7 linked regions of the Homo sapiens genome follow. The protein of the gene in region 1 interacts with the protein of each later gene in a pairwise test. Each region holds a gene or a part of one and is shown in the gene's direction. Other genes may lie near its edges.

What was found.
Region 2: the proteins of ZNF410 (region 1) and RCN1 interact in binary tests that used the Homo sapiens proteins (3 or more experiments, as listed by UniProt).
Region 3: the proteins of ZNF410 (region 1) and RPRD1A interact in binary tests that used the Homo sapiens proteins (3 or more experiments, as listed by UniProt).
Region 4: the proteins of ZNF410 (region 1) and GLRX3 interact in binary tests that used the Homo sapiens proteins (3 or more experiments, as listed by UniProt).
Region 5: the proteins of ZNF410 (region 1) and LRIF1 interact in binary tests that used the Homo sapiens proteins (3 or more experiments, as listed by UniProt).
Region 6: the proteins of ZNF410 (region 1) and ZNF24 interact in binary tests that used the Homo sapiens proteins (3 or more experiments, as listed by UniProt).
Region 7: the proteins of ZNF410 (region 1) and ARHGEF9 interact in binary tests that used the Homo sapiens proteins (3 or more experiments, as listed by UniProt).

What each region holds. Positions count from the first base shown.
Region 1 is NC_000014.9:73,924,437-73,928,879, forward strand, and holds part of ZNF410 (zinc finger protein 410), read left to right. Parts: intron 1-265; coding exon of another isoform or gene 266-367; exon of another isoform or gene 368-383; intron 384-2,670; coding exon of another isoform or gene 2,671-2,792; intron 2,793-4,443. UniProt on the Homo sapiens protein: Transcription factor that binds to the sequence motif 5'-CATCCCATAATA-3', and is specifically required to silence expression of fetal hemoglobin in adult erythroid cells.
Region 2 is NC_000011.10:32,097,132-32,101,574, forward strand, and holds part of RCN1 (reticulocalbin-1 precursor), read left to right. Parts: intron 1-12; coding exon 13-206; intron 207-1,218; coding exon 1,219-1,397; intron 1,398-3,416; coding exon 3,417-3,477; intron 3,478-4,443. UniProt on the Homo sapiens protein: May regulate calcium-dependent activities in the endoplasmic reticulum lumen or post-ER compartment.
Region 3 is NC_000018.10:36,021,834-36,026,276, reverse strand, and holds part of RPRD1A (regulation of nuclear pre-mRNA domain-containing protein 1A), read left to right. Parts: intron 1-598; coding exon of another isoform or gene 599-679; exon of another isoform or gene 680-1,391; intron 1,392-4,443. UniProt on the Homo sapiens protein: Interacts with phosphorylated C-terminal heptapeptide repeat domain (CTD) of the largest RNA polymerase II subunit POLR2A, and participates in dephosphorylation of the CTD by RPAP2.
Region 4 is NC_000010.11:130,170,428-130,174,870, forward strand, and holds part of GLRX3 (glutaredoxin-3), read left to right. Parts: intron 1-1,156; coding exon 1,157-1,209; intron 1,210-4,439; coding exon 4,440-4,443. UniProt on the Homo sapiens protein: Together with BOLA2, acts as a cytosolic iron-sulfur (Fe-S) cluster assembly factor that facilitates [2Fe-2S] cluster insertion into a subset of cytosolic proteins.
Region 5 is NC_000001.11:110,950,423-110,954,865, reverse strand, and holds part of LRIF1 (ligand-dependent nuclear receptor-interacting factor 1), read left to right. Parts: intron 1-2,050; coding exon 2,051-3,578; intron 3,579-4,443. UniProt on the Homo sapiens protein: Together with SMCHD1, involved in chromosome X inactivation in females by promoting the compaction of heterochromatin.
Region 6 is NC_000018.10:35,337,039-35,341,481, reverse strand, and holds part of ZNF24 (zinc finger protein 24), read left to right. Parts: intron 1-748; 5' UTR 749-831; coding exon 832-1,251; intron 1,252-1,505; coding exon 1,506-1,653; intron 1,654-2,408; coding exon of another isoform or gene 2,409-2,422; exon of another isoform or gene 2,423-3,711; coding exon 3,712-4,250; 3' UTR 4,251-4,443. UniProt on the Homo sapiens protein: Transcription factor required for myelination of differentiated oligodendrocytes. Required for the conversion of oligodendrocytes from the premyelinating to the myelinating state.
Region 7 is NC_000023.11:63,648,862-63,653,304, reverse strand, and holds part of ARHGEF9 (rho guanine nucleotide exchange factor 9), read left to right. Parts: intron 1-4,443. UniProt on the Homo sapiens protein: Acts as a guanine nucleotide exchange factor (GEF) for CDC42. Promotes formation of GPHN clusters.

The sequences.
Region 1 (4,443 bases):
GGTTTGAGGTTGAGCTAAAGCACTTTCAACTCTGTAGTTTGGCTTTGACTCAGGAAACAGAATGCAAAGTGGTCAGTGTTTTAAAATCTTGGGATATTTCACTGGTCTTGTGTCATGGGAGTGGATGACTTCATCACGAGCACATTTCATATGCATAAACTTTTGTCAAAACCTCTGTAGCTTGGATCCTTTCAGTATTACATTAGTTTTTATGGTGCTCTTCCGTCTTTTCTCCTCTTTTCTTTTCTTTTTTTTTTTGAGACAGAGTCTCGCTCCGTTGCCCAGGCTGGAGTGCAGTGGTGCGTTCTCGGCTCACTGCAACCTCTGCCTCCCAGGTTCAAGCGATTCTCCTGCCTCAGCCTCCTGAGTAGCTGCTACTACAGGTGCGTGCCACCACGCCCAGCTAATTTTTTTGTATTTTTAGTAGAGACAGGGTTTCACCATGTTGGCCAGGATGGTCTCGATCTCTTGACCTCGTGATCTGCCCACCTCAGCCTCCCAAAGTGCTGGAATTACAGGCGTGAGCCACTGCACCCAGCCTTCTTCTTTTCATTATAACCTTTATACCACAGTAAGCTGTTGCATCATTCAAATGACTCTGCATCCTATATTGAATATTCTCCATTATTCTCTAATATCTTTGGGGGTACCCAGGATTACAGGGTTCTGGGCATACATGTTAATGCTTTTGCCAGGACTTTTCTTTTTATTGTTGTGACCCATTGTCTTTGCTTATATTTAAAGTTTTTGATCTTGATATCATTGGTTCTTTCCTAAGTCACTTTTTCTGGTAACTGCTTTGGAATGAATCATACATATCTCACTTACGGAGCCTTCCTCTTTCTCCTCCATTTTTCTTGTCTTCATTTTTCTATTTTAAAGCTTTTATTATGGAAATTTTCAGAGTACAGTGAGAGAGAGACTAGTATGATAAACCCACGTCGAAGTCGAAGTTACGGCTGAGAGCGGCAGCTCACACCTGTCTCCTAACTTTGACTTTTTTTTTTTTTTGAGATGGAGTCCCACTGTCGCCCAGGCTGGAGTGCAGTGGTGCGATCTCAGCTCACTGCAACCTCCGCCTCTCAGGTTCAAGCAATTTTCCTGCCTCAGTCTCCTGAATAGCTGGGATTGCAGGCACCCACTACCAAACCCGGCTAATTTTTGTATTTTTATTAGAGATAGGGTTTTACCCTGTTGGCCAGGCTAGTCTGGAACTCCTGACCTCAAGTGATCCACCCGCCTCAGCCTCCCAAAGTGCTGGGATTACAGGTGTGAGCTGCCGCACTTGGCCCTAACTTTGACAGTTAACTTTATGCCATGCTCAGTGGCCCATGCCTATAATCCCAGCACTTTCGGAGGTGGAGGCAAGTGGATTGCTTGAATCCAGGAGTTCAAGACCAGCCTGGGCAACATAAGACCCCTATCTCTACAAAAAATACAAAAAAAAATTAGCGGGACGTGGTGGCATGTGCCTGTGGTCCCAACTACTCGGGAGGCTGAAGTAGGAGGATCACCTAAGCCTGGGAGGTTGAGGCTACAGTGAGCAGTGACTGTGCCACTGTACTCCAGCCTGGGTGACAGAGTGAGACCCTGTCTCAAAAGACAAAAACACAATTAACTTTATACTGTTCTTGTTTTATCTCTTTCCTCCTTTTGTTGTTGTTGCTGTTTATGATGGAGTATTTCAAAGCAAATTGTAGGCATGTCATTTCTTCTGTATATATTTCAGTATATGCCTCTAACAAGATACAATATTAAAAACTATAATATCTTTACCACTTCAAACAAAGATAACAATAATTTATTGTATTCTCTAATAGTCTATGTTCTTTTTTTCCTCCCCCTCAAAAATATCTTATGGTTGGTTTGCTAGAGTCAGGATTCAAACAATGTCTGTATATTGCATTTGTTTAATACTTCTCTTAATTCTCTTTATAATAGTCCTTTTTTTTCAGTATGGTTATCTATTTAAGGAACTGGGTTTTTTGTTTTGTTTTGTTTTTGTTTTTGTTTTGAGACTGAGTCTCACTCTGTGGCCCAGGTCAAGAGTGCAGTGGCGTGATCTCGGCTCACTGCAACCTCTGCCTCCCAGGTTCAAGCAATTCTCCTGCCTCAAGTCTCCCAATTAGCTGGGATTACAGGCACCTGCCACCAAGCCCCACTAATTTTTGTATTTTTAGTAGAGACGGGCTTTTACCATGTTGGCCAGGCTGGTCCCAAACTCCTGACCTCAAGTGATCCACCCACCTCGGCCTCCCAAAGTGCTGGGATTACAGGCGTGAGCCACTGCGCCCGGCCAGGAATTGGGAGTTTTTGTCCTAAAGATTTTCCCACATTCTGGTTTTGGCTGATTGACTCCTTTTGTTAATATTAATTTCTCTATCCACTGTATTTCCTAAAAACTGGTAGTTACATTTAGAGGTTTGATTAGATTCAATTTTTCCCCCTTGGCAAGAATATTTCATAAATGGTGCTCTTGCTTCCTATTACATCTCATCAGGAGGCACATGACAATCAGTTGATCTTAAGATTGACTGGTAGGTTATGTAAAGGTTTTGGCAACCATTACTGATCATAGCCTAGATCTATTTTTCATTAAGGCCTGCAAAATGGTGATATCCTAATTCTCTTGTTCCCTCTGTGTTTATTATGATTTTTTTTTTTTTTGAGGTGGAGTCTTGCTATGTTGCCCAGGCTGGAGTGCAGTGGCACCATCTCGGCTCACTGCAACCTCTACCTCCCGAATTCAAGCGGTTCTTCTGCCTCAGCCTCCTGAGTAGCTGGGACCACAGGCAGGTGCCACCACGCCCGGCTGTATTTTTAGTAGAGACGGGGTTTCACCATGTTGGCTAGGCTGGTCTTGAACTCCTGACCTCAGGTGATCCACCCGCCTCAGCCTCCCAAACTGCTGGGATTACAGGCATGAGCCACTGCGCCCGGCCTAATTGTGATTCTTTTATACAAGAAATACTTCTCTCATCAACCATAGGGTTGCCCTGAAATCGTCATTTCAGGAAAACCATCTCGTTTTTCTTTTACCTAGTACACATTATTATTCGAGCAAGCCAACCCACAGCACCTAGCCTTTTCTTTTTTATATTTGAAACCTCAGAGCTTTTCTCTCCTGTATTGGTAAATATCTTTAAAATTCTCCACGTTACCCAAATAAATGCCAGATGTATGAAAATTTAATTCATTCAGCGGCTAGTTACCACATACCTAGTATGTGTGGGGCATTCTGCAGGGTACTAGTTATACAATAGTAAACAAAATATAGTCTCTGCCTCAAATAGCTTATAGGCAGAATTAGGACCTTCATAACTATATATATGGTGCTGGAGTTGCACTGTACAGTGAGGTTAGGATGGGAGAAGTGACCAATTAATCAACCGGCAATTTTTTTTTTTTTTTTAATTTTTTAGACGGAGTCTCACTCTGTTGCCCAGGCTGGAGTGCAGTGGCACAATCTCGGCCCACTGCAACCTCTACCTCCTGGGTTCAAGCAATTCTCATGTCTCAGACTCCTGAGTAGCTGGGATTACAGGCGGCCACCACCACACCCAGCTAATTTTTTGTATTTTTGATAGAGACGGGGTTTCATCATGTTGGCCAGGCTGGTCTCAAACTCCTGACCTTAGGTGATCCACCCGCCTCGGCCTCCCAAAGTGCTGGGATTACAGGCATGAGCCACTGCGCCCAGCCTAAACTGGCAGTTTTTAAGTGTAGTACGTTCCAGTCTTGGGAGAAGTCAGAGAATATGTTTTAGAGTTTAAGTTGAGATGGGAGGGATGAATAGACATCATCTTGATGGAGAAGTAGGAGTTGGAAGAATATAACAGGCAGAAGGACAGCAGTGTGTACAAAGGTAGAAGGTAAGGGAGTAGAGGGCCTCTGTGGAACTGTAAATAGGGTTGAGTGTGATGGGACATGGGATGAAGAGATGGGCTGGAGAGGAAAATTGAGAGCTGGAAAGATAAGCTAGTCTCTTGAAAGGTCTTACAAGGCATGATTTTATCCTGGGGGCACTGAAGAACCACTGCATGGTTTGAAGTAGGGTATGACGTGATCAGATTTGTGTATTCAGAATATCCAGTAATAGTACATTTGTTCCCTAGAACCTAGGCACAAGTCTTGGAATTGGCCTCAGAGCATCCATGTATAATAGGTGCTGCCCACTTACAGCCTCAGGGAGACAGCATAACACAGGCTGCCTAAAAAACGAAAGACCTGGGTGTGGTGGATCATGTCTATAATCCCAGCACTTTTGGAAGCTAAGGTGGGAGGATCACTTGAGGCCAGAAGTTCGAGACAAGCCTGGACAACAGAGCAAGATCCTGTCTCTACAAAAAGTTTTTTAAAAAATTATCCAGGCATAGTGGTGCATACCTGTAGTCCCAGCTACTCCAGAGGCTGAGGCAGGAGGATCAACTTGAGCCCAGGAGT
Region 2 (4,443 bases), on another chromosome or scaffold:
TTTGTACTGCAGGAAGATTGTTGATCGAATCGACAATGATGGGGATGGCTTTGTCACTACTGAGGAGCTGAAAACCTGGATCAAACGGGTGCAGAAAAGATACATCTTTGATAATGTCGCCAAAGTCTGGAAGGATTATGATAGGGACAAGGATGATAAAATTTCCTGGGAAGAATACAAACAAGCCACCTATGGTTACTACCTAGGTAAGAGGTGCTGCAGGAGCGATGACACAGTGGGGGCCCAGATCACAAGCTTTTTGTAGACTCTCTCTTCTCTTATCATATCCACTCCCTTCAGGGAGATGTCACAGCCTCCTAAGTAGAACCTGCTTGTATAACACCCTCCTCTGTAAACTCAGAATGTACTGAGTTGCTTACACTGAATGAAGTTACAGGTGGGAGGGAAGGGCTGTGAGGGCTAATAAAAAAAATCCCTTAGATTGAGACCCCATCTCAACTTCGTCTCAGATGCACACACGGAGAAGAAAGCAGAAAGGAAGTGTGTCTGTGGTATATTTTCAAAATGCTGCCTAATTCTGGATAGCAAGGATTGAGTGGGCCGGAGCAGTCAGGGAAGGCTTCCTGGTGTGGGTGGTTTGGAAACTGGAGCCTTGGAGAATGGATTTATATTTGGAGAAGGTGGGTCAACTGGAGGGGCAAAGATGCAGCAATGCATGCAGTAATGGGAAGGGTTTAGATCCAAGACAAACAAGATCGGGAGAAGGAAGGAGAAATGAGATTACAGAGGCACGGGGTGCAGACCTGCTGGGTGCATGGTGAGGTTGGCAAAGAAACAGGCCCAAGGAGAACCAAAGATGCACTCACGCGGCCAGAATCGGGGAGATCTTGAAAGCCAGGCACGGCGTTGAGACAAGATGTTTTGGGTACCAAAGAGCCTCTGTATGTTCCAGATCTAAGAATGAGATGATGAAAGTAGAGTTCTGCAAAGAGAAGTATGGCAGTAATATAGTCTAAAGCCTGCGCTCTTAACCACTTGCAGTAATTCCCCTAATATGCCATGAGGCCTAGATTATGGGGTGGCTTGAAGGGACTGATATTAGAGGCATTCTGACATAGAATGTTTTAAAGAACTCAGTAGGTCGGGACCTTTTTTCCCTATATGTACCATTTGAGCATGCAGGATGAGTGATCTGGCAGGAAACGCCTTTCTTGACCGCACGGTTTAAAAACATTTCTGCATACATACATCCTGCAGGAAACCCCGCAGAGTTTCATGATTCTTCAGATCATCACACCTTTAAAAAGATGCTGCCACGTGATGAGAGAAGATTCAAAGCTGCAGACCTCAATGGTGACCTGACAGCTACTCGGGAGGAGTTCACTGCCTTTCTGCATCCTGAAGAGTTTGAACATATGAAGGAAATTGTGGTTTTGGTAAGATAAGTGAAGAGTCTGGGCTGGGAAGAGACCAGGGAGAAAACTGCCTCCAAATCTTGTCTCTTCCAAAGAGAGAAGATTTTTCAGCCTGAAGGGAATTGGAGAAGGACTCTGAAGTAGAGTTTGTTGGAATCCCCGTCTACCCAGAAAATTAGTCAGGTCAGGCTGGCTGCTGTAACAGATAGCCCCCAGTTGTAGCCATTTAACACTAGCAAAGCTTGTTCCAGCCAGATGGACCTCCTGGGCTGTTCTCTGAGCACAGTTGGGTACCCAGTTCTCCTCTAAGCACTCCTGCTTGTGCTCTGCCATCTTGTAGCTTCAAAGTCATCCTGGCAACACCCAGCTGGCTGACAAAGGAAAAGAGAGGGAATGAGAAGATACAGTCTTTGTTTACTCTTCCGGCCAGGGAATGACACATCCCCTTCACGTATGTTCCACTGGTCCCTCCTAGATATGAAGAGGCTGGGAAATACAGTTTAGATACGTGCCTAGAAAGAGTAAATGGGGCCCAGGCACAGTGGCTCACGCCTGTAATCCCAGCACTTTGGGAGGCCGAGGCAGGCGGATCATGAGGTCAGGAGTTTGAAACCAGCCTGGCCAATATGTTGAAATGCTGTCTCTACTAAAGATACAAAAAAAATTAGCCAGGCATGGTGGCATGTGCCTGTAATCCCAGCTACTTGGGAGGCTGAGGCAGGAGAATCGCTTAAACCCAGGAGGCGGAGGTTGCAGTGAGCCGAGATCGTGCCATTGCACTCCAGCCTGGGCGACAGGGTGAGACTCCTTCTCAAAAAAAAAAAAAAGAAAGAGCAAATGGCTTAAGTGAGCAACTAGCTAGTCTCTGCCCCATTTTTCAATTTTAAGGGACTTGGAAAAAGACTCAGAAATGGAATGAATTGGATTGTTAAAACTGTATGGAAATGTAAAGTAAAAATTATGGCTGGAAGAGATGCTACCCTTAGCGGGTGGGTCTTTGGAGGGTGGGTGGATCAGGCCCTAGGCTTTGAGGAATGACTATGCTTGTAAGGCCTCAGAATGTAGTTGCTTTCCGTAGTGTCTTGTTGGGTCCCAAATGTCTTCATTTTCCATGACAATTAAATAAATGCCATCACCTGTTTTCCTGGGCAGATGCACCAACCCAGTTCCAACTGTTTCAATCCTGGGAAACAGATGGCTAGAGCTTTTGTTTACACGAGCTGTGGATGGTTTTAGTTATCCAGGTGGTGGAAGGGTCCACTCATGCTTCATCCTCCTGACTGCCATGACTGTAAGGACTGGGCAGTGGCTCCAAGAATCATTTCTCTTTACCACTCAACATTCATGTAGTGTTAGCTAATGTGGCAGAGGACAGTGCAGGTGGTGAATGATCCCGAGTAGACTACGAGCCTTTGGGAGTGGCTCTCTGCTCTCAGGTTGGCTCTTTGGTTTGACCCAGGATGCCTCTGAGTTGCTGTGCCAATGAACAGTAAACTCATTTAATTATTGACCCAATCAAAAAATACTGAATAAGAGGTCAAGTATACTAAATACAGAGCACAATACATCAAAAAGTCAGATATACTTTTATTTTTTAGTTGCCCACTGTTTCACATTTCTCTTGACACCAACTCAGTATTCATAGTCCTGTTAGCACTAGAGTCTATTCTTGTGGTCATCTAATCCAGTGGTTCTCACACTGGGTTTCTCGCATGTTCCCCAGTGGGTGTTTTGGCTGGATGGTGGAGTTAGTTGGCCTGGCAGGGCCTCCTGATATCGTCAGAGCACCTCTGGGGTTACAGGTACATCTTGCTTGCTTTGAAGAAAGCATTCTGCTCTGGAAACTGGGGTGGGGGATTAGGAACAGAAACTATTGCCTGTTTTTTACAGATAAAAAACTAGTTCCCAGGGAAGTAAGGCGATGAGCCAGAAGTCACCAAGCATTCAGCCGTAAAAGCTGGACAAATGAGGACAATAGAATTCTCAGACTTCTTAGAGCACATGGCCATCTTGCATTCTGTTTTACCTTTTGCTTCCTAGGAAACCCTGGAGGACATCGACAAGAACGGGGATGGGTTTGTGGATCAGGATGAGTATATTGGTGAGTACTGACCTAGAGTCTTGCTCAGCTGTCCTGACTGGGCCACATGACCCCACCCACACGTCTGGCTACTTTCCCCAGACGTCTCTTTTAGCAACAGCTGCAAGTCTATACGTCACTCCTGGGAGCTTCCAGCCTGCTTGTCCCATCAGCCCTAGTGATGTAGTATCAGGGAAGTATTATTAGGCCTCATTCAGTGGAGAAGAGATGAAAAGGCTGGCCCTACACAAGGCTGGCCAACAGTTGGCCCCATGACTCTGAGAGGTGCCCTTCATCACACTGCCTAGTTTTACCTTTGCAAAAGGACATTGGAGATCCCATAGATTTACAGTGAAGATAGAGGAGACAGTGTCAGGGCAAAGCCTCTAAAACTGGACTGGGTCAATGGAGCCTAGAAACTCTGAGTAGATGCAGCTGTGATTAACAGAACTGTTTATGTGTCTGAGCACTTTGCAGAAAGGCATTCTTCTTAGAAAGATAAATGCTTTACAGAGTGCACAATTGCCCAATAATATGCTCATTTTGTGCCCCTCGTTTCCCATCCTTTGGATGGGAGTCCTATAGTGTCAAATTAATGTATTTGGGTCTGAACCCACCATTGCTGGTTAGAGCCCTTCCTGGTAGCCCCAAATCCCCCCCAGCCCAACCCCCCGCTAGAAAGGACTAGAGCAGGCAACAAGGACAATTCCATTTGATCCTCACCACCTGCTATGGCACATGGCTCCAGCTGCAGGCTCCCTTCTCATGGCAGCTCTTTTCCCAAGTCTCAATAAAGTAAAAGCTGGAAAATCATTTGGTTTAGGTGTTGACCTATGAAAAGAGAAATGAAATATGTATAATTTTTGTACAGATTTTTAATCAAAGCCATTAATTACCTTTAAATGTAAAACTCAGAGCCTGAGTTGCTGTCTCTGGTTTTGTGGTTGTATTACTTTGCCATCCCAGACACGAGAACAAGTGCCTTCA
Region 3 (4,443 bases), on another chromosome or scaffold:
AAAAATCTTTCAGTTGATGAGTTCTTGTTTAAATTGTATTGCTGTGGCAATTTCTTATTGTAATAATATGTAGGAGAATTTCTAATTTGAATCCCTTTATTTACAGAAAGCTCACTGTAAATTTGTAGGAATGTCATGGTACTACCCCATTAAGTTATTTTTATTAGTGTTTAGTTATTGATTCAGCAGTCTCTAATTGTGCCAAAAATGGTGCTTAGATTAGATTGCCATTGCTACCCATGGGAGCTGCTACTTAATTATTCCCACCTCAAATTCCCAGCTCTCAAGTTAGCACTACTCCTTTGCAATTTACTCCTTCTCTGCTCGTATAAATACCCTCAGATGATGATAGTTGGTGGCCACTATACCTTTGAAGAGGTTGCCCACTTCTACATGGAAAGGAAAAGATGGTTTTTTTTTTTAAAAGATGAATTTGATAATTAACTTGCCACTATTTCACCTTGTGATGAAACCTCAATTTTAAACATAGTGTTAATTGTTTTATTGTCCACAGAATTAAGGGTAAGTAATGTCATACAATTTTTGTCTTTAGTCTTTTAGTATGGTTTCTTTAACTTCTATTGAGCTTCTGTTGCAGATATTGGACATGGGCGTATCTTCTAACGATGTCGTCACCATTAGTATATTCTTCCTGCTAAAAATAAATATCAAACCCTGAAGCCTGTATTGTCTCATGTTTTTGAAAATTGAAGAGAAGACTGTAACTTTATTCTGCTTTATACTTTCTCACTTATGATGATGGTCATTTGTCACTGTTTACAAAAACAGAATTTATATTTGAAGTGTAACTGTAGAAAATAGATCAGATGCCACTCCCCACAACCCCCTTTTCCCCCAGTGCCTTCCAGCCACATTTCATAGTTGACAGTCATAGATTATGAGGCTGATGATAATAATAATGTTAACATTCATGTGTCAGGTACTATTCTAGGCACTTCACATAAGCAACTCATTTAATCTTACACAGCAGGATGTATTATCCACATTTGATAGATACAGAACTGAGGCACAGGAAGATTAAGTAACTTGCCTAAGGTCACAAAGAGCTAGTGAGTTGTTTGGAACGCAGAGAATCTGCCTCCAGAGCCAGTGCACTTCATCAAAAAGACACATTGCTTCCTGTTTTTACTTAAATCTAAGATTAAAGCAAATGCTAAAGTCCTATTTTTTCCAACTTTTTCTGCTCCCTCTCTTCTCAGAGGTAATCACTGTCTTGAAATAAAGCCTTCTAGGAACTTTTTTTGTTGTTCTTCTGCATAACTGGATTTTATATTATAAAGAAGAAATCACCTCAATTATGTTCAGCTGTTTTTTAACAAGTAAATACTCTTTACAAGTACAGAAATAAACTTGAAAGTTATTCCACAGAACTCTTTGTAAATTATCACTTAGAACTATGTTATTCCTTTGTAGAAGATGTGGAAATGATTTGAGATATTTAGACTTTTTTGTACCAAGTAGGTGGCATCACTTTGAAGTTGAGACTGAGAGGTGAAGATTTATGTTTTCTGAATCAGCTGTGATACTATCAAGTAATTTTCATCTATTGTGTATCTTTGAACATTAACAGTGGTTGACCAGATACTGATGTGTCATTTGTTGCTGCATTTTTGATAATGGAACATAAATTTAAAGTATCAGTTCGGGAATTGGCCATTTCATATTTCTTAAGGAAGCCATTATTAAAGCATGTGTAATGAATGAAAACATGAAGTGGTTTAAAATTTGTGTTTTAAGACAATCATTATTTTTGAAACTTCTGACTATAGTTGGTTACTAAGCAGAAGCAGATAACTGTTGGGCCGGGTGTGGTGGTTCACGCCTGTAATCTCAGCACTTTGGGAAGCTGAGCTGGGTGAATCACTTGAGGTCAGGAGTTCAAGACCAGCCTGGCTGACATGGTGAAACCCCATCTCTACTTAAAAAAAAAAAAAAAAAAAAATTAACCAGGTGTGGTGGTGGGTGCCTGTAGTCCCAGCTACTTGGGAGGCTGAGGCAGCAGGATCACTTGAACCTGGGAGGTGGAGGTTGCAGTGAGCTGAGATCACACCACTGCCCTCCAGACTGGGCGACAGACCGAGACTCCATCACGCGCGTGCGCGTGCACACACACACACGAGATAACTGTTAAAATAGACTATTAATAACTTTAGTTTACATTTATAATATTTAGGGATTGCTATAGGAATCATTTTACCATTATGAAGTTGAAAGTATTGCATAAACTGTTTTTCAGTTAGCTTATTATCTTGGAAGGCATACATGAATAGGAGAATTAAAATGACATTTTGACTTTGACATTGTTTCCTAGTACATACAAAAGTTATGTTTACAACTTTACTGTTGTCTAAGTATTACAATTACACTTTACTGTTGTCTAAGCATTAGGATTACATATAAAATTACATATAAAAAATGTACGTATCTTAGTTAAAAATGCTTCATTGCTAAAAAAGACTAATCATCTGAGCCTTCTGTTAGTCATAGTCTTTGCTGGTGGAGGGTCTTGCCTTGATATTGATGGCTGTTGACTGATTAGGGTGGTGATTGCTGAAGGATGTGGCTATGGCAGTTTATTAACACAGTGATAAAGTTTGCTGCATCAGTTGACTTCTTTCTTGAAAGATTTCTCTGTAGGATGCAGTACATTTGATAGCATTTTGCCTACAGCAGAACTGCTTTCAAAATTAGAAGCAATTTTCTCAAGCCCTGCTACTGCTTTATCAAGTAAATCCTTTGTTGTCATTTCATCTCCACTGGGAGTAGATTCCATCTCAGGAAACCACTTTATTTGCCCATCCATAAGAAGCAACTCCTCACCAACAAGTTTTATGAGATTGGAGCAGTTCAGTCACATCTTCAGGCTCCACTTCTGTGTCTCGTTCTCTTGCTATTTGCAGCAGATCTACAGTTATTTTCACCACTGAAGTCTTGAACCCCACAAAGTCAGCCATGAGAATTGGAGTAAACTTCTTCCAAACTCCTGTTAATGTTGATATTTTATCTCCTCCCATGAATCATGAATGTTTTTAATGCCATCTAGAATTGTGAATCATTTTCTGAAAGTTTTCAGTTACTTTGCCGATATTCATCACAGGAATGACTATGGCAGCTATATAGCCTTACGAAATGTATTTCTTAAATAGTGAGACTTGAATGTCAAAATTGCTCTTTTATCTATAAGTGGCAGAACACGTGTTAGCAGGCATGAACACTAGTCACATTGTACATCTTCATCAGAGCTCTTGGGTGACCAGGTATGTTGTCAATAGTAATTTTTTATTATTGTTATTTTGGAGACAGTCTCTTGTTCTGTCACCCAGGCTGGAGTAGTCATGCAATCACAGCTCACTGTAACCTCGAACTCATGAGTACAAGTTATCTTCCTGCTTCAGCTTCCAAAGTAGCTAGGACTGCAGGTGTGTGCCACCATGCCTGGCTAATTTTTAAATGTTTTGTAAAGAAGAGTTCTTGCTGTGTTGCCCAGGCTAGTCTTGAACTCTTGGGTCAAGCAGTCCTCCCACCTGGGCCTCCCAAAGTGCTGTGACTACAGGTGGGAATCACTACATCTGGCCAATAGTAATATTTTGCAGGTCTCAACAGTTGGCTTAAAATACTCAGTAAACTATGCTGTAAATAGATGTATTGTCATCTATACTTGTTTCTTTTATAGAGCACAGGCAGAGTAAATTTAGCATAATTCTTAAGGACTCTAGAATTATTCAGAATGGTAAATGAACATTGGCCTCTACTTAAAGTCGTCAGCTACTTTAGCTCCTAATGAGGGCCAGCTTGTTTGTTGAAGCTTTGAAGGCAGGCATTTATTTCTCTCTAGCTATGAAAGTCCCAGGTGGCATCTTCTTCCAGTACCAGGCTCTTTTTTCTACATGGAAAATCTGTTGTTTAGTGTAGCCACCGTCATCAACGACCTTAGCTAGAGCCTCTGGGTAACTTGCTGCAGTTCTTAGTTCAGCCCTTGCTGCTTCACTCTGCACTTCGAAGTTACGGAGACAGCTTCTTTCCATAAACCAACCTCTGCTACTTTCAAACTTTGCTTCTGTAGCTTCTTTACCTCCCTCAGGCTTCATAGAATTGAAGAGCGTTTGGGCCTTGCTGTGGATTAATTAGGCTTTAGTTTAAGGGAATGTGGCTGGTTTGATCTTCTATCCAGACTACTGAAACTTCCTACATATCACCAGTAAGGCTGTTTAGCTTTCTTCTTTGTGTGTACACTAGAGTAGCCCCCCACCTTTTTTTGAGATATTGTGTCACTCTTGTCCAGGCTTGAGTGCAGTGGCTTGATCACGGCTCACTGCAACTTCAACCTCCTGGGCTCTAGCAATCCTTCCACTTCAGCCTCCTGAGTAGCTGGAAGTAGAGGCATGTGATACCATGCCTGGCTAATTTTAAAATTTTTTTGTA
Region 4 (4,443 bases), on another chromosome or scaffold:
TAATTAGTTAACATAACTGGTTAATATAATTAGGTAATAATGAAAGTAACAGTAACAAAGAAAATGTTAATATAAATTTCAGCATGTTGGAAACATTAGGTTAGGGCCTAAATTCTTTGATTTTGGTTCAGTGTATTGAAACAATAGAGGAAGTTAATAATTCCTAGTAATGATAAAGTGACATTTTTTCTTATTCTCGGTAATGGTTTAAGTGGATATTTATTCTCAAAACTATTTTTTTCTGGAAACCTAGAAAGTATTAATACATTTTGGAAACAATGTTATTGGGGCTATTAAAATGTTGACATGGTACCATATCTTTTCCACAAGATTGCTGGAATTTGGAGTCCTGTGGCATGAAAAAAGCTTAAGATTTTCATAAACTCAAAAAAGTGTTAGTATTCTGTAATGTAAAAATAAATGAGGCTGGATGCGGTAGCTCATGCCTGTAATCCCAGCACTTTGGGAGGCCAAGGCAGGTCCGAGGTCAAGAGATCGAGACCATCCTGGCTAACATGGTGAAACCCCATCTTTACTAAAAATACAAAAAGTTTGCTGGGCGTGGTGGCGCATGCCTATAGTCCCAGCTACTCGGGAGGCTGAGGCAGGAGAATCGCTTGAACCTGGGAGGTGGACATTGCAGTGAGCCGAGATCACACTCCAGCCTGGGGACAGAGTGAGACTCTGTCTCAAAAAATAAATAAATAAATAAATAAATAAATAAAATAAAAAGAAAAATGGGAGTCAGAATCCAGTTGGAAATGGGAAAATAATTGTCATAATCATTGCAAAAAGGCTAAGTGAGTTAAGATCATTTTGCATGAGTGAATTAAACAATGAACTCAAATCTCTGTAGAAAATCTCGGTTTCACTTAGAGGAACTTTTTGACCACAGAGAATATAAACTGTTGGAACACATGTCATCTCAAGTGGTTACAAACCAAAGGAAAAGGAAGTCTGTGGGTCACGTGTGCCTGGGTTGATGTGTAGATGGGTTCGTACTTGAAGAGGGGATGAGCAGAAGCTCTGGGAGCTGAGTGAAAGTAGTGGCAGCTATGCTGGACAAGTGCTGTGCTGGTTGACAAGAGTATTAGGTACAACCATGCTGCTTGGGTCATACAAAAATTGTAATCTTTGCAAATTTTTTTTCATTTAGGAAGCAAAATGTGGATTCAGCAAACAAATTCTGGAAATACTAAATAGTACTGGGTATGTAAATGTTGTTTTCAAATGGTGTATTAAAAAAATTCCAACCTGGCCAGGCGTAGTGGCTCACGTCTATAATCCTAGCACTTTGGGAGGCTAAGACAGGAATATTGCTTGAGCCCAGGTGTTCGAGACCAGCCTGGACAACATAGTGAGACCCCATCGCCACAAAAAATAAAAAAATTAGCCAGGCATGGTCACATACATCTATGGTCCTAGCTACTTGAGAGACTGAGGTGGGAGGATCACTGGAGTCTTGGAAGGTGAGGCTGTAGTGAGCCGTGATTGCACCACTGCACTCAGCCTGGGTGACAGAGCAAGACCCTGTCTCAAAAAAAAGAAAAAAATATTTCAACTTTTCAGTTCTGCCACTGATACTTTTCAGTTGTAATGTCTATATCCATACATATCTGTATCTTTCTTTATTTTTTGCTGTATTGTTTTGTGAATGCCTTAACTTAGATCAAAATAGTATTTTCTGGCCAGTGTCAACCTATTAGTAACATAAAGGAGGTCTTTAGGCCACCTTTGGAATAACTATTTGTCTACTTTCCCAGAGGAAAATGTATAACTGAGTCCTCACCATGCATAAAGATATTTCAGGGGAATATATTATAGGTAGTTTTTAATTTTTCTCAAATATCCTAGTTGCTAAACAGTACAGAAAGCTGAGGGGCACATATTAAGGTCCATTACCTGGATCTGAGAGGTAGCACAAGTTAAATTGCAGTGCTCCTAGTTTTGATGTGCTCAGTGGTGAAGCTGTCAGGTAAGAACATTGCCATTGATTTTTGTGGTTAAAAACAAAAGCACTTATTTGGAGATATACAGCACATGTTCTATAGGGTTTGTCAGATATTTTTGTTTATTTCTCATTTCATGATTGTATCTTTTAAAAATCATGTATTCTAACTGTAGCTTCAAATAAATTACTTTCAAGTAATCTTTGATATACTTCAAAGATCTATTGAAAATAGTTAAATAGTACAGGTTGAATACAATTTCAGGGACATAAAAAGAATATAGGGCCAGGCACAGTGGCTCACACCTGTAATCCCAGCACTTTGGGAGGCTGAGGTGAGTGGATCACTTGAGGTCAGGAGTTCGAGACCAGCTTGGCGAACATGGTGAAACCCCGCCTCTACTAAAAATACAAAAATTAGCCGGGTGCGGTGGCGCACGCCTATAATCCCAGCCACTCAGGAGGCTGAGGCCTGGAGAATCACTTGAGCCCAGGAGGTGGAGGTTTCAGTGAGCTGAAACCACGCCACTGCACTCCAACCTGGGTGACAGTGAGACTCTGTCTCAAAAAAAAGATGTGGTTGTCGTCTTTAGATTACTATGACATTTTATAGAAGCAAGTATAGTCAGTTTATTGTAATTGTAACTTCAAGCCTGTTCCTTTCTTCACCCCTGCCCTGGGCCATACAGTGGGGGCTGGCTTGTTTTTGGTCATTTTTGATTTTCCCCTTTCTTTGTCGACCCTCTGCTGCGGGTCCACAGTGAGACACACACAGTCCATCCCTCTCTAGCAGTACCAGGTTCCTCAGGTGTCTTCTGAGCCGACACACTGGGCCTGACTCAGCTCGTGTCTTTGGTGGAACATCTTGGTAACTTGGCTTTCTGTCCCATATCTGTCTAATCTCCATTGTATTGAAAGCACCCTGTTGTCGCAGAGAGCAGGAGGATGCTTTGGGAGAGCATGACCTCCCAGCTCTGGACTTGCTAAGCGTGATTGGCCCTAGGATGAGTGAGGCCATCCAGGACCTCAGCTTCGCTTAACACGAGCAGACCATGCTCTTGCTGGGCGCCAAATGTATGTGGAGAAAACTCCTTTTTACTTTTTCTCATTTCTTATCTTTTCCTTTAGTAGCCAAAATACACATGCATGAGTGGTTGAGAACCAAGTGTATATTGAGGTTTGAAAGGTACCCTTTATGAATAACTTTTAGGAAGTATACTGGCTGTTAGGACTCCACATACATACACTTGGGCCCAGTGCTTCCTGGATCCTTTATGAATAGTTGTATAACTCATTGTTTTTATCACAGTATTAAGAGATCTGCCACCTTTAGTTCAACTTGAACAAAGACTTACATTGGGGTTTTTAAAAAGCATTAGGTTTACATTGGGGTCTTTTTTTGTTCTTCTTTCAAACATTCCTTTTTTGGTAATTGCTTCTGATTTATCCCGTCATTTAGTTTTTTTGACTGTTCCCTGTACCATAGACAGTTTCCTTGGGAACTTGTTTACTAAATAAACAAGATTTCCCTATGATGGTTTCAGTTTTATGGAAAGTCCAGTTTTTTTTACATGTAGCATTTTCTTTGGCCACCTTTGGGAATTGCACCTGTACCCTCAGGCACCCTGCAAGGATTTAGGCATACATGCTTGCTAATACCTGACCACCTAACGGTGAAATCGCTCTGAGTGGATACAGTTGGATATTCATGCAGTGATTTTTCATTTTTTGTACAAGTAATGTTCATTGTATGGTATAAAGCCACAAAGCTTTCATTGGCCTTTTGTACATTAAAAACAGCACCCTCTCTGAAATAAGTTTAAGTGTGGAAAGCATGTCTCTTGCTAAGGTGGAGGGAGCTGGCAGCGTGGTTGTTATCCGGCTGCTGAGCCCTCCAGCCTCCGTCCACGAGCACTACTACATCCTGCTGCACGGGCAGCTTCCAGGAGGTTAAGAAGCAGCAGCCTGGGGTGGGTTAGACATTAGAAGTGGGTAAGAGTGTTCAGTTAATGAAGGCTCGTGCAGATGGGGGTGTGGGTCTGATCCAGGGGTTGGCAAGTTGCAGCTGGCTGCCCATTTTTGTAAATAAAGTTATATTGGCACATAGCCACATCCCTTCATTTATACATTGTCTGTGGCTGCTTTTATGCTGACAGTTGCAGCAGAGAGCAGAACTGAGCAGTTGCAGCAGAGACTGTCTGGCCTGTAAAGCCTGAAGTGTTTAGTGTCTGACTCTTTAAGAAGAAGTTTGCCCACCCCTGGTCTAACCCAATATTGTCCGGAGAAAAATCCAGATAAAGTCATATGTTGGAATGACTAATTCTGTGTAGTACCAGACAGATTAAGAAGTAAAATCATTTCCATTGGTCTGTAGTACATTTTGTTAGCAGTGAAACGGTTTTCTTGATTATTTTAAAAACATCAAATGCATAGAGGTTTTACACTTTGATTTAACTGTATTTCCAGTTAAAATGTCTTCTCTTTTTTGCAGTGTT
Region 5 (4,443 bases), on another chromosome or scaffold:
GAGTTGGCAAAGAAGACTGAGGAGCCACTACAGAGGCTACTGTTACTCTTTTGATTTTTAAAAATCAATTAAAATATAAGAATGCACAGAAACAGAGTGGGCCAGATTAGGCCCAGAGGCTACAGCTTACTGACCCTTTTTTCCTGATGAGCCTGGTGCTTAACTTAAAACAGACACTTGGTAAATTTTTGTGTAATGACTTAATATTGAATATGTTCTTATCCAGGTCAAATGTGCTTTTCTTGTGGTGCAGGGAGGTAATAAAGGTAGATTTTTCCTCTTAAAACCCTGAAAGCAAGAATTCATCCTTTTCTTTGGGTTTATTCTCTTTAGAAGTTAACTTTTAATTTATTAAAAGTCAGTGTGTGACCAGCCTGGACAACATAGCAAAACTTTGCCTCTATAAAAAATACAAAAATTAGCCGGGTTTGGTGGCGTGCATCTGTGGTCTCAGCTACTTGAGAAGCTGAGGTAGAAGGATAGCTTGAGCCCAGGAGGTGGAGATTGCAGTGAGCCAAGATTGTACACCTACACTCCAGTCTGGATGACAGAGCCGGGCCCTGTCTCAACAGCAACAATAACAAAATGTCAATGTAATATTTTGACCCACTCTCACGTGTCCAAAAGACTTTTAAATTTTTGTAAGGATATAATAATGTTATTCGGGCTGCAGAAAGGTAAACCAAATTTCTACGGATACATAGAATTTTGGGTATTGATTTTTATTAATACCTGAGAGTTTTAAAAACATACCTTTATGCTTTTGAGAATCCTAATTATTATCGTTATTATTTGCCCTTGAACTTTTGTATTTATTTGATCTTAGTTATCTAAGACCATGCTAGGTCTATGGTATATGGATGCTGCACTCATATTGGTAGAATATAATATGAGAGACAGTCTATAGACAAACATATTAATATATGATGACAATCTATGATATATACCATGAAGGAAGCTAACAAGCATAATGTTATGGATTAATTATGAAGGAAAGACAAGGATAAAGTGGTCAGAAAATGTATCTCTTGAGAAATATCATTTATGCCAAGACTTGAGCTATGTGAAGAGTTGAGTTGGGTGAGGCGTACCTAGGTAGAGTGATAGTATGTGTGACATGAAAGCTCAATATTTCCCAGGAGCTGAAAAATGTTTTAGATATAAATAAGGTAAGGTATTTACATTCAAGTAATCTCCAAATAACTAATTATGCAAACAGAGATTAGTATATATTGATTTTTCTTAAGATTAGACAGTCTATACTAAGAAATAATTCAAGGCATGGGGGTCAGAATTGATTCAGTTAAAAAAAATTGATTTCCAGTCTGTTCCACATTGATTGAAAACCATTCAGCTGAAATTGCAGTGGTATTATATGTATGGGTTGATAGGTGATTGACAATTGACTAATATAAATAATTGCTATACCAGAGACTATGTAGCACTAAACCTCAAATGTGCTGAAACAGTAATCAGAAGAAAATGATTCCTATGTAAACAGTTCAGTGAAATCTATAGCACAAAAATGTGGCAAACTAAGGTAACACCATGAGAGATAGCTTAGGCAAAAGAAGAATGGCTGGCAGAACTTGTGAGTTATTGAAGGAAGAAGACAGAACAGATTGAGGGGGAAAAGAGAGAAATGGAATAAGAGTAAGGGGAGAGGGAATGAGAATCTTCAGTTAGAGTAGAGGAGGAGGACAAGAGGAAGGAATTCAGGGAAAGGGGGAAGGGAGGATGCTAATATTTTAAGAGGAGCTTACTTTAGTAGTATAATTTTATATAGGGCAAAACCTTAGAAATGTCTACTTTTAGTCTTAGGAATAAATGTTATTATCTCATACCCATTGCCTAATCATATAAGCAGTTGACTATATCATTATCTCTTCTACTTCAAAATATTTGTTTTGCAGTCTTTCACTTTAAAAACTCAAAATGGAAAATTATATACTTTATTTTAATATTTACAAATATTTACAAATATTTATTTTTAAATAAAATGTATATACCATGTAGTATGTTGTATTTATTTACTCAATGTTCTTTTAAGTGTTTCAGGCTGCATGTACCAAGTAGTTCAGACGATTGGCTCGGATGGAAAAAATCTTCTGCAATTACTTCCAATTCCTAAGTCTTCTGGAAATCTTATACCACTAGTTCAATCTTCAGTCATGTCTGATGCTTTGAAAGGGAATACAGGAAAACCAGTTCAAGTTACTTTTCAGACTCAGATTTCCAGCTCTTCCACAAGTGCATCAGTTCAATTGCCCATTTTTCAGCCAGCCAGTTCTTCAAACTATTTTCTTACAAGAACAGTAGATACATCAGAAAAAGGTAGAGTTACTTCTGTGGGAACTGGAAATTTTTCTTCATCAGTTTCTAAAGTTCAGAGTCATGGTGTGAAAATTGATGGACTCACCATGCAAACATTTGCTGTTCCTCCCTCAACACAAAAAGACTCATCTTTTATTGTAGTTAATACCCAGAGTCTTCCAGTGACTGTGAAGTCTCCAGTTTTGCCTTCTGGGCATCATTTACAGATTCCAGCCCATGCTGAAGTGAAATCTGTACCAGCGTCATCATTGCCTCCTTCAGTGCAGCAAAAGATACTTGCAACTGCCACCACCAGTACCTCAGGAATGGTTGAGGCCTCCCAAATGCCAACCGTTATTTATGTATCTCCTGTAAATACAGTGAAAAATGTAGTTACCAAGAACTTTCAAAACATTTACCCAAAACCTGTTACAGAAATAGCAAAGCCAGTAATACTAAATACCACACAAATTCCAAAGAATGTTGCTACAGAGACACAATTGAAAGGTGGTCAGCATTCTCAAGCTGCTCCAGTGAAATGGATTTTCCAAGATAATCTACAGCCTTTTACGCCATCTCTTGTTCCTGTTAAGTCTTCAAATAATGTGGCTTCAAAGATTTTAAAAACTTTTGTAGATAGGAAAAATTTGGGAGATAATACTATAAATATGCCACCATTGAGTACCATCGATCCTAGTGGGACGCGATCCAAAAATATGCCTATTAAAGATAATGCTTTGGTTATGTTTAATGGGAAAGTCTATCTGTTGGCTAAAAAGGGGACAGATGTTCTGCCATCACAAATTGACCAACAGAATTCTGTTTCTCCTGATACTCCAGTAAGAAAAGACACGTTACAGACAGTGAGTTCAAGTCCAGTCACAGAAATATCCAGAGAGGTTGTAAATATTGTTTTGGCTAAAAGTAAATCTTCCCAGATGGAGACAAAATCACTTTCCAATACCCAGCTTGCTTCCATGGCCAATCTAAGGGCAGAGAAGAATAAAGTGGAGAAACCATCTCCTTCTACCACAAATCCACATATGAACCAATCCAGTAACTACTTAAAACAGAGTAAGACTTTATTCACAAATCCAATCTTTCCAGTTGGATTTAGTACAGGACACAATGCCCCCAGAAAAGTAACAGCCGTCATTTATGCTAGAAAAGGAAGTGTCCTCCAGAGCATAGAGAAAATAAGTTCCTCTGTTGATGCAACAACTGTTACTTCACAACAGTGTGTTTTCAGAGACCAAGAACCAAAGGTAATTTTCCCATGTCAGGGTGCTCTTTTTATATATCTATATAGAAAAGTTTGTTTTCTTAATTCTCAAAGTTATCTATGATACCTCTTTCCCCCACTGCCAACCCCATCACACACAGACTATACACATATGAGTATTTAAGTCAAAACTTCCATCTGAGCAAATTTGAGGAGGAGTACAGTTGGGTACAATCTTGTACAAAGGAGTACAGTCTTTCTCTTGAATCACTTGGCATGCCAAATCTTTAAAACAAAAAATTCACAGAGCAAAAAGGTTTAGAAGAGTTGGGGAAGGATAATGTGAATTCAAAGCTTAGTAAAAATATGTGAGTATATGTATATACATACATGTATATATGTATGTTCATATATAATAGCCTTTTTAGTATATGAGGAGATCAATATGCATGTAAAAGAGTTGGTTTTGGGGTTTTGTGGGGTTTTTTTGTGGTGGTGGTGGTGGTATACCATGGAAAAGGTGAGACAGGGCTAATCAATACCTTTCAGTAATTTGTGGAAATAAGATTTTATCAGCATCTTTGATGGGTTGATTTTTTTTTTGGTAGACAAATTTCATTTTCCTTTTTATTAGCTCTTTGTGACTCCTCAGCCAGTTACCCAACATGCCCACATAGTTACCTTTATGTTCGACTTAAGGTTTGTCTGTCTGTGTGCTTACTAGATATTTGTACCCATCTTTTCCTTGCTTACTTAGAGGTCTACTCAATAATGTCAGCATTTCTCCCCTTCAGTACAGAATTCATTGAACTCCAGAGATGTAAGGAGGTAAATTCTGATTGTTCAATACAAGATCGATTAAAGGCATGTGTGACTTTTCCAGAAGACTACAATTTCTAAATAATGTC
Region 6 (4,443 bases), on another chromosome or scaffold:
ACTCTAAAATAATATAGTATAAAAAGTATAGTAAATACATAAACCAGTAACATAGTCGTTTATTATTGTTATCAAGTTTTATGTACCATACATAACTGTATGTGTTAAACTGGCAACACAGCAGGTTTGTTTACACCAGCATCACCACAAACATGTGAGTAATGTATTGACCTTACAACAGCTACAGTGTCACTAGGTGAATCTTGAATTTTTCAGCTCCATTATAATCTTATGGGAGCACTGTCATCTAGGTGGTCCTTCATTGACCCAAACATCATTTTGTAGTGCATGACTGTGTTGGGTTTTTTTTAGGCCATCTAGTCTGTTGAAACTACTCAACTCTGCTATTGTAGCGTGAAGTATGAGTAAGTACAATTATTTATGGACACAGTCATGTTAATTTCATATCATTTTCACGTGTCATGAGGTATTCATTTGATTTTGGGGAGCTCCATTCCCTAAATATCATTAGGTATTCATTTGATTTTAGGGATCTCCGCTCCGTAAGGCACTGTGATGAAGACCACAGCCATTTAAAAATGTGAAAATTATTGTTGGTGCAAGTGTTGTACAGAAATGGGTGGCAGGCTAGATTTGGCCGTGAAGCTGTAGTTTGCCAATTCCTGGTGTAGGTTATTGATTGGAATTTTTAACTCAAAGAACAAGTATCTTTTACTTTTACCAGTATAAGTTCAAATTCTTAGGATATTTTTGCTTATTTATATATCTTTTATTTCTTATGCCTCAGGAGTGCCTGTGAAGAAAACGGGGTATTGCCCTGAGGCTTATATTCTGCCTCAGTTGTCTTTTCTTGAAATATTATAAATCAGAATGTCTGCACAGTCAGTGGAAGAAGATTCAATACTTATCATCCCAACTCCAGATGAAGAGGAAAAAATTCTGAGAGTGAAGTTGGAGGAGGATCCTGATGGCGAAGAGGGATCAAGTATCCCCTGGAACCATCTCCCAGACCCAGAGATTTTCCGACAGCGATTCAGGCAGTTTGGATACCAGGATTCACCTGGGCCCCGTGAGGCTGTGAGCCAGCTCCGAGAACTTTGCCGTCTGTGGCTCAGGCCAGAGACGCACACAAAAGAACAAATCTTGGAGCTGGTAGTGCTGGAGCAGTTTGTTGCCATCCTACCCAAAGAGCTACAGACTTGGGTTCGAGATCATCATCCAGAGAATGGAGAGGAGGCAGTGACAGTGCTGGAGGATTTGGAGAGTGAACTTGATGACCCTGGACAACCGGTGAGCCTGCTTGTGTCATTTCCTGTGTCAGAAGCACTGGCATAGGTAGTAGGCAAAGCTGCTGAATTAATTCCACTCAACTAAGTTAGAATTATGTTTATGCCTTTTCCCCCATTCCCCTACCACTCCTTGTTATCTGTGCCGCTTTGCCATCTAGGCTTCTGCAGTATTTGTTTCATGGGGTTTCTCTTACGTGTTTTTAGTTCTGATTCTCATTACAGTTCCTTCTCTGAATCAAATCTTTCTGTTTCCAGGTTTCTCTCCGTCGACGAAAACGGGAAGTACTAGTAGAAGACATGGTATCTCAAGAAGAAGCTCAGGGATTACCAAGTTCTGAGCTTGATGCTGTGGAGAACCAGCTCAAGTGGGCATCCTGGGAGCTCCATTCCCTAAGGCACTGTGGTGAGGACCAGAACTCTGTGTGGGCTAGAGGGTGAAAGAGAGTATAGGCCTTTTGTTCAGAACTTTGCTTGTTCTCACTGGTGGGGGGATCATATCACTCTTAATCTAATATCTCAGTTTTTTTCTGATTAAGTTGATTTTGCTGGCCTCAGACCTTTTATTCCTAGACATTAACATCTTCAGCCTTTTCTTCCCTTTCAGTCTCCTTCCTAAAAAGAGTTGCCCATGTCAGGCTAGCATTTGCCTTACTTTGAGCCAGCACCCACCCATGGACCAAGTCCCTCTATTTTGCATTCAGTATTACTTGTCATCTGTTTTACATCCTTTTACTTTCAATCTCCTGCCTAATTCCATTGGTACAGTAAGCTTACCTGAAAACCTCTTCTAATCTCTTTGTTGTATATCACTGAAATCTTTCTAAATATTTATTTCTGATTTCCTTCAACGTCTACCTAGAGTCATTTTCTTCTAAGAAGCTTCTTTTGTAGAAATATTTGGAGTAATTTTTTTCCTTTTTCTAAGTATTTATGCAAAAAAAGCCTCCTTAGCTATAACATGCTTTAAATGCAGAAAAATCTTTTTTAAAAGCTCAAAGTTGTATTAATTCACGAGACCAGTCTTTCCCAATATATTAGCCATTAACACCATATACTTATGTGTATCCTTTGATATGGCCCAGTATATTCCTAAAACTGCTAGATTGCTTTCTCATGTTTATGTGAACTAAAATGAAATTTTGTTTGACTCTGCTTTAGTAATCATTCCTTGAAGTAGTTGGAGATGGTGCTGGTATGCCACTGAATGAGGTCTGAGCAGGTTTTCTTCACATCTGAGGGGACAGTGCCAGCCAGTCAACTTTTGGGGTGGGGCTGAAGTCTGCTGAAAATCTGCAGTTTTACATGTTTCATGGGACATTCTTCTGTGCAATAAAGTTTGAGAAGTATCATTCTTGATATATGGGGCTGATATTTTCAACTTCTCATCATCTGAATTTTAGAGTGACTTTTCACCTGCGTTCCTTATTTCAGCTGTCTAGTCTCTTCCACACTTGGGAATTTCTGTTTCCTGTGTGCCGTTTGTCTCCACTTAATCTTCACGCTCCTCTGTTTTTCAAGTCTCCAAGCCTCACTATCCTCCTCTAACCTTTCAGTCTCTCTCTCTTAGCCTTATCTCCTGACTTGATCTTTTTGTTAATTATTTACTGTTTTCCTCTTCGCTGAAGGCAGTTGCTAACCCTATATGAACTGGATCTTTACTCCTTAAGGCATGAAGTTTTAGAAAAGTCTTAAATGACACTTGCTGTTATCTCTGCCTGCGTGTGAGTGATGCTAACCCATGTTGGTAATTCAGGCTTTTCTTTCATTGGACACGTTTCACTGAGGCTTAGAAATAACGATTTTTCTAAGTACCATGACAAATACCACATGGGAGAAGCTGCTTTTATTGGAAAACTTTCATTTATTAGGGGCATACTGAATTTTTATGTCATGTCTTTGGTTAACACAGGAGGCCCCCAGCTTATCTTCAGCCCCTTCTTGTCAAGACTCCTGTGTTCTGCTTTTAGGCTAACATTGGCTGTGACCTGACTTGGCTTGTTCATTTCAGAAATAGCCACTTTCTGACATGTTTTTCTAATTTACATCTTTGTATTTTGATGTAATTTCTCCCTTTCTCAAAGTAAAAGAACATTATAATGATTTCCTAGTGGCCAATTTTATTTTATTTTTATTCTTACAAAGTTTCATCCATACCTAGCCACATCATTTTGACTATCTCCCTAACCATCTTAGAATCTACCATCTTTCTGACCTTTGTTTTCTGACTACCATTTGTAAACCACTTGCCTATGTTTTATTCAGATATCCCTTATATCATGATGTTATACTGTTATTCAGAGTAATTTCATTTTTTCTTTTTTGAGAATAGGCCTTAACACCAGTGTCAGAGTGGTTTATAGATGTGTGCTAGCTATTTTAGTTCATTAAAAAAAAAATTTTTTTTAGGTTTCTTTTCCCTTAATAGATAATGAATGATATTTACATTTTCTGTTTATTTCAGATGATGATGGTAGGACTGAAAATGGAGCACTAGCTCCAAAGCAGGAGCTTCCTTCAGCATTAGAATCCCATGAAGTTCCTGGCACTCTCAATATGGGTGTTCCTCAAATTTTTAAATATGGAGAAACCTGTTTCCCCAAGGGCAGGTTTGAAAGAAAGAGAAATCCCTCTCGAAAGAAACAACATATATGTGATGAATGTGGAAAACACTTCAGTCAGGGCTCAGCCCTTATTCTTCATCAAAGAATTCACAGTGGGGAGAAACCTTATGGATGTGTTGAGTGTGGGAAAGCATTCAGCCGAAGTTCCATTCTTGTGCAACACCAGAGAGTCCACACTGGAGAAAAACCTTACAAATGTCTTGAATGTGGGAAAGCCTTTAGCCAGAATTCGGGGCTTATTAATCATCAGAGAATCCATACTGGGGAGAAACCTTATGAATGCGTTCAGTGTGGGAAATCGTATAGTCAAAGCTCAAATCTTTTTAGACATCAGAGAAGACACAATGCAGAAAAACTTCTGAATGTTGTGAAAGTTTAAGAAATTGAAAAAAAAAAAAGAATCAGCACTCAGGTCTTTTTCTTCAGAAATGAAGACAAAATTTAAAATATGAAATGATGCAGAATAGTTTTTTCCCTATTGACTGTCAGAAAATCCACTGGGAAATGTAAAAATCTTCACTCACCATTATGATATTTATCTTGAAAGAAATGGTGTCATACCTGCCTAGAAA
Region 7 (4,443 bases), on another chromosome or scaffold:
GCAGTCAGGAAGAGAAGCTCATGAGAAGGATGAAGTGGCACAGACATGGGCTAAAGCTGTGGTGCACAGGTAGAATTTCTGCCCTTTCTGTGTGAGACCTAGGCTCTACTTTTAAGGTCTTGCAACAGATTCAGTCAGGTCCATCCAGATTATCTAGGATATTGTCCCTTATATAAAGTCAACTGATTAGGGCCTGTATTAGCCCATGTTCACAGTGCTATAAATACCTGAGACTGGGTAATTTATGAAGAAAAGAGGTTTAATTGACTCACAGTTCTGCAGGCTTAACAGGAAGCATCACTGGGAGGCCTCAGGAAATTTAGAATCATAGTAGAAGGCAAAGGGGAAGCAAGCATCTTCTTCACATAGTGGCAGGAGAGAGAGAGAGCAAGAGGGAAGTGCCACATACTTTTAAACCATCAGATCTCGTGAGAACTCACCCACTATCATGAGAACAGCATGGGAGAAATTCCCCCCATGATCCAATCACCTCCCACTAGGCCCCTCCCCCAACACATGGGGATTACCATTCCACATGAGATTTGGGTGGGGACACAGAGCCAAACCGTATCAGGGGCTTTGATTATATCTGTAAAATACCTTCATGGCAACACCTACATTAGTGAGGACTACAGTCTAGTCGAATGGGCACATCAATAAATTCATCACACTTTTCTTATAAACAGCTGTATAACATTCCATAATATTATGTAATAACCACAGTCATCTCTTGGTATGCACGGGATATTGGTTCCAGGACTCCCGTGCATATCAAAATCCATGGATGCTCAAATCCCTTATATAAAATGATATAGTATTTACATATAACCTATGTACATCCTCCATATACTTTCAATCATTTCTAGATTATTTATAATACCTAACACAATGTAAATGCTATGTAAATAATTGTTATACTGTATTGTTTAGGGAATAAAAACAAGGCAAAAATCCATATGTGTTCAGTAAAGAAGCAACCAGCCGCTTTTTTCTGCATATTTTTGATCCACAGTTGATTGAATCCAGATGTGGAACCCATGGTTACAGAGGGCTGACTGTTCGTTTTTTGCTAGACATTCATTTTATATTTAGCTTTATTTCCCACTACAGATATTGCTGCAATAAATATCCATGTACGTATCTGATTGTTACTTACTGATGCTTTTATTCCTGTAGGATCTGTACCCTAAAGTGGAATGACTGAATGTTAGGATGTGAACAGTTTTAATACATACTTGCATATTAAATTCTGAAAGATTTGTAGAATCTATACTCCTAGCATAATTTTATGAGTACCCACTTCCGCATAGCCTCACCAGCACTGGATAGTATCTATTTGTTTCAGTTTGCCATTTCTCAACTAGTAAATTGAAAAAAAGTGTTGGAACCTTTTTTTTTTCATATGCTTAATGGCTATTTTCATTTCTTTTGTGAATTGCCTCATACCCTTTACTCATTCTTTTAACATAAATTTGGAAGGACTCTATATTGTTGATGTGACACTTTGTCAGTCACGAATTTCACGTTTTCACCAGTCTGTTTTTTGTCTTTTGAGTTTGTTTATATTGCCTACTTCTATAAATATTTAAATTTTTACTTTGAAAAATGTATCTATTATTCCTTTTTTGGCCCCTAGTTTCATCTTGCTTAAGATCTCTTGCCATCCAAACTATAAAATTTCCTGATTAAAAATATATTTTTGGTTTATTTTTAGAACAGTAATCCATCCGGAATTTACATTTTTATATGATGTGAGAAAGGGGACCTCATTTTTTTCTTCAAGGTGGATAGTCAGTTGCATCTGCATCATTTATTAAATAAATCATTTATTTTCCACACAGTTTAAATGCCATTTTTCATATATAGTAACTCTGCATATATACTTAGATGTGTTTTTAAACTTTCTATTCTGTTCCACTCTTCTGTTTGTCATTTCTTGTATCAAGACTATGCTGTTTCAATTACAGTAGATTTTGAGAAAGATTTAATGCCTGGTACAATCAATTCTTATTCACTCTTATCATTGCTTCTTAGCAGTTCTTAGATGTTTATTCTTTGATATGAATATCAAATTTATTTATTCTAGGTTTAAAAACACTGCCGTAAAAACTGGCATAGAAAGCCCATTTGGATTCTGATTGGCATTATATTAAATTTTTTAATATGTAACGGCTTGGCATTGTTATTAAGTTTTCACATTTAAGACAAGGCTCTGCTCTCCTTTCATCAAAATCTTGTTCTGTATGCTTCAGGAAAATGGTAGAGTTTTCTTTAGATTCTGTACATTTCTGCCTCTTTGTACATTACTTTTGATAATTTCTATTTTTCTGGGAAATTGTTCATTTCCTCTGGATTTTTAATTTAATGCTATATATCTACACATAATATTTTCTAATTATCATATCTTCCATAATTGTAGTTATCTCTCTTCTTTTGGGTTCATAATATTTCATATATTTTTATTTTCTCACTTTAATCTTTTAATCAGGCTTATCAGGGAGTATTGATCTTTTTTATGTATATATAATCATTATACATATTTTTAAGGTACATGTGATATTTTGATACCTGTATACAATGTGTAATGATCAAATCAGGGTAATTGCGATATTCATCACCTCAAATGCTCATCTTTTCTTTGTGTTGGGAACATTCCAAATATTTTTTTTAGCTATTTTGAGATATACAATAAATTATTATTAACTCTAATTTCCCTACTGTCCTATCACAAACTAAATCTTATTCCTTCTAACTGTGTTTTTGTACCTATTAACCAGCCCCTCTCCATTGACCTGAGCCTTTCTTTCTGAGCCACTGATAATCACCATTCTACTCTCTATCTTTATGAAATCCACCTTTCAGCTCCCATGTATGAGGGAAAATAATCTTATTTCACTTAACATAATATCCTCCAGTTCCATCCATGTTTCTGCAGATGACAGGATTTCATTTTTTTATGGCTGAATAATATAACATCGTGTATATATGCCACATTTCCTTTATACATTAATCCACTGATGGGCATTTAGGTTGATTTCATATTTTGGTTATTGTGAATAATGCTGTGATAAACATGAGAGCATAGATATTTCCTCGGTATATTGATATCCTTTCTTTTGGATACATACCCAGCAGTGGCATTGCTGGATTATATAGTAGTTCTATTTTTAATTTTTTTAGGAACTTTTCTACTGTTTTTCTATAATGGCTGTACTAATTTACATTTGGTCGTTTCAAAGAACGTGTTTTTGGTTTGTTTATCCCTTCTGCAGTTTATTTCTGTTTCTTCTTAATTTTCACTTTTATTTCCTTCTTTTTCCTACTTTCAGGATTTAAGGAATATTTTAGATCCTTTCCACTCTTTCATTGACTGAATACTTACTTTGTTTATTTTGATTTTTACAAAATCAGAAAATCATTTTAGACATGGGAGGGTGTATGTGTCGAGGAATTTGTCCATTTCTTCTAGATTTTCTAGTTTATTTGCGTAGAGGTGTTTATAGTATTCTCTGATGGTAGTTTGTATTTCTGTGGGATCAGTGGTGATATCCCCTTTATCATTTTTTATTGTGTCTATTTGATTCTTCTCTCTTTTCTTCTTTATTAGTCTTGCTAGTGGTCTATCAATTTTGTTGTTCTTTTCAAAAAACCAGCTCCTGGATTCATTGATTTTTTGAAGGGTTTTTTGTGTCTCTATTTCCTTCAGTTCTGCTCTGATCTTAGTTATTTCTTGCATTCTGCTACCTTTTGAATGTATTTGCTCTTGCTTCTCTAGTTCTTTTAATTGTGATGTTAGGGTGTCAATTTAAGATCTTTCCTGCTTTCTCTTGTGGGCATTTAGTGCTATAAATTTCCCTCTACACACTGCTTTGAATGTGTCCCAGAGATTCTGGTATGTTGTGTCTTTGTTCTCATTGGTTTCAAAGAACATCTTTATTTCTGCCTTCATTTCGTTATGTACCCAGTAGTCATTCAGGAGCAGGTTGTTCAGTTTCCATGTAGTTGAGCGGTTTTGAGTGAGTTTCTTAATCCTGAGTTCTAGTTTGATTTCACTGTGGTCTGAGAGACAGTTTGTTATAATTTCTGTTCTTTTACATTTGCTGAGGAGTGCTTTACTATGTGGTCAATTTTGGAATAGGTGTGGTGCTGAGAAGAATGTATATTCTGTTGATTTGGGGTGGAGAGTTCTGTAGATGTCTATTAGGTCTGCTTGGTGCAGAGCTGAGTTCAATTCCTGGATATCCTTGTTAACTTTTTGTCTCGTTGATCTGTCTAATGTTGACAGTGGGGTGTTAAAGTCTCCCATTATTATTGTGTGGGAGTCTAAGTCTCTTTGTAGATCTCTAAGGACTTGTTTTATGAATCTGGGTACTCCTGTATTGGGTGCATATATATTTAGGAGAGTTAGCTCTTCTTGTTGAATTGATGCCCTTACCATTATGT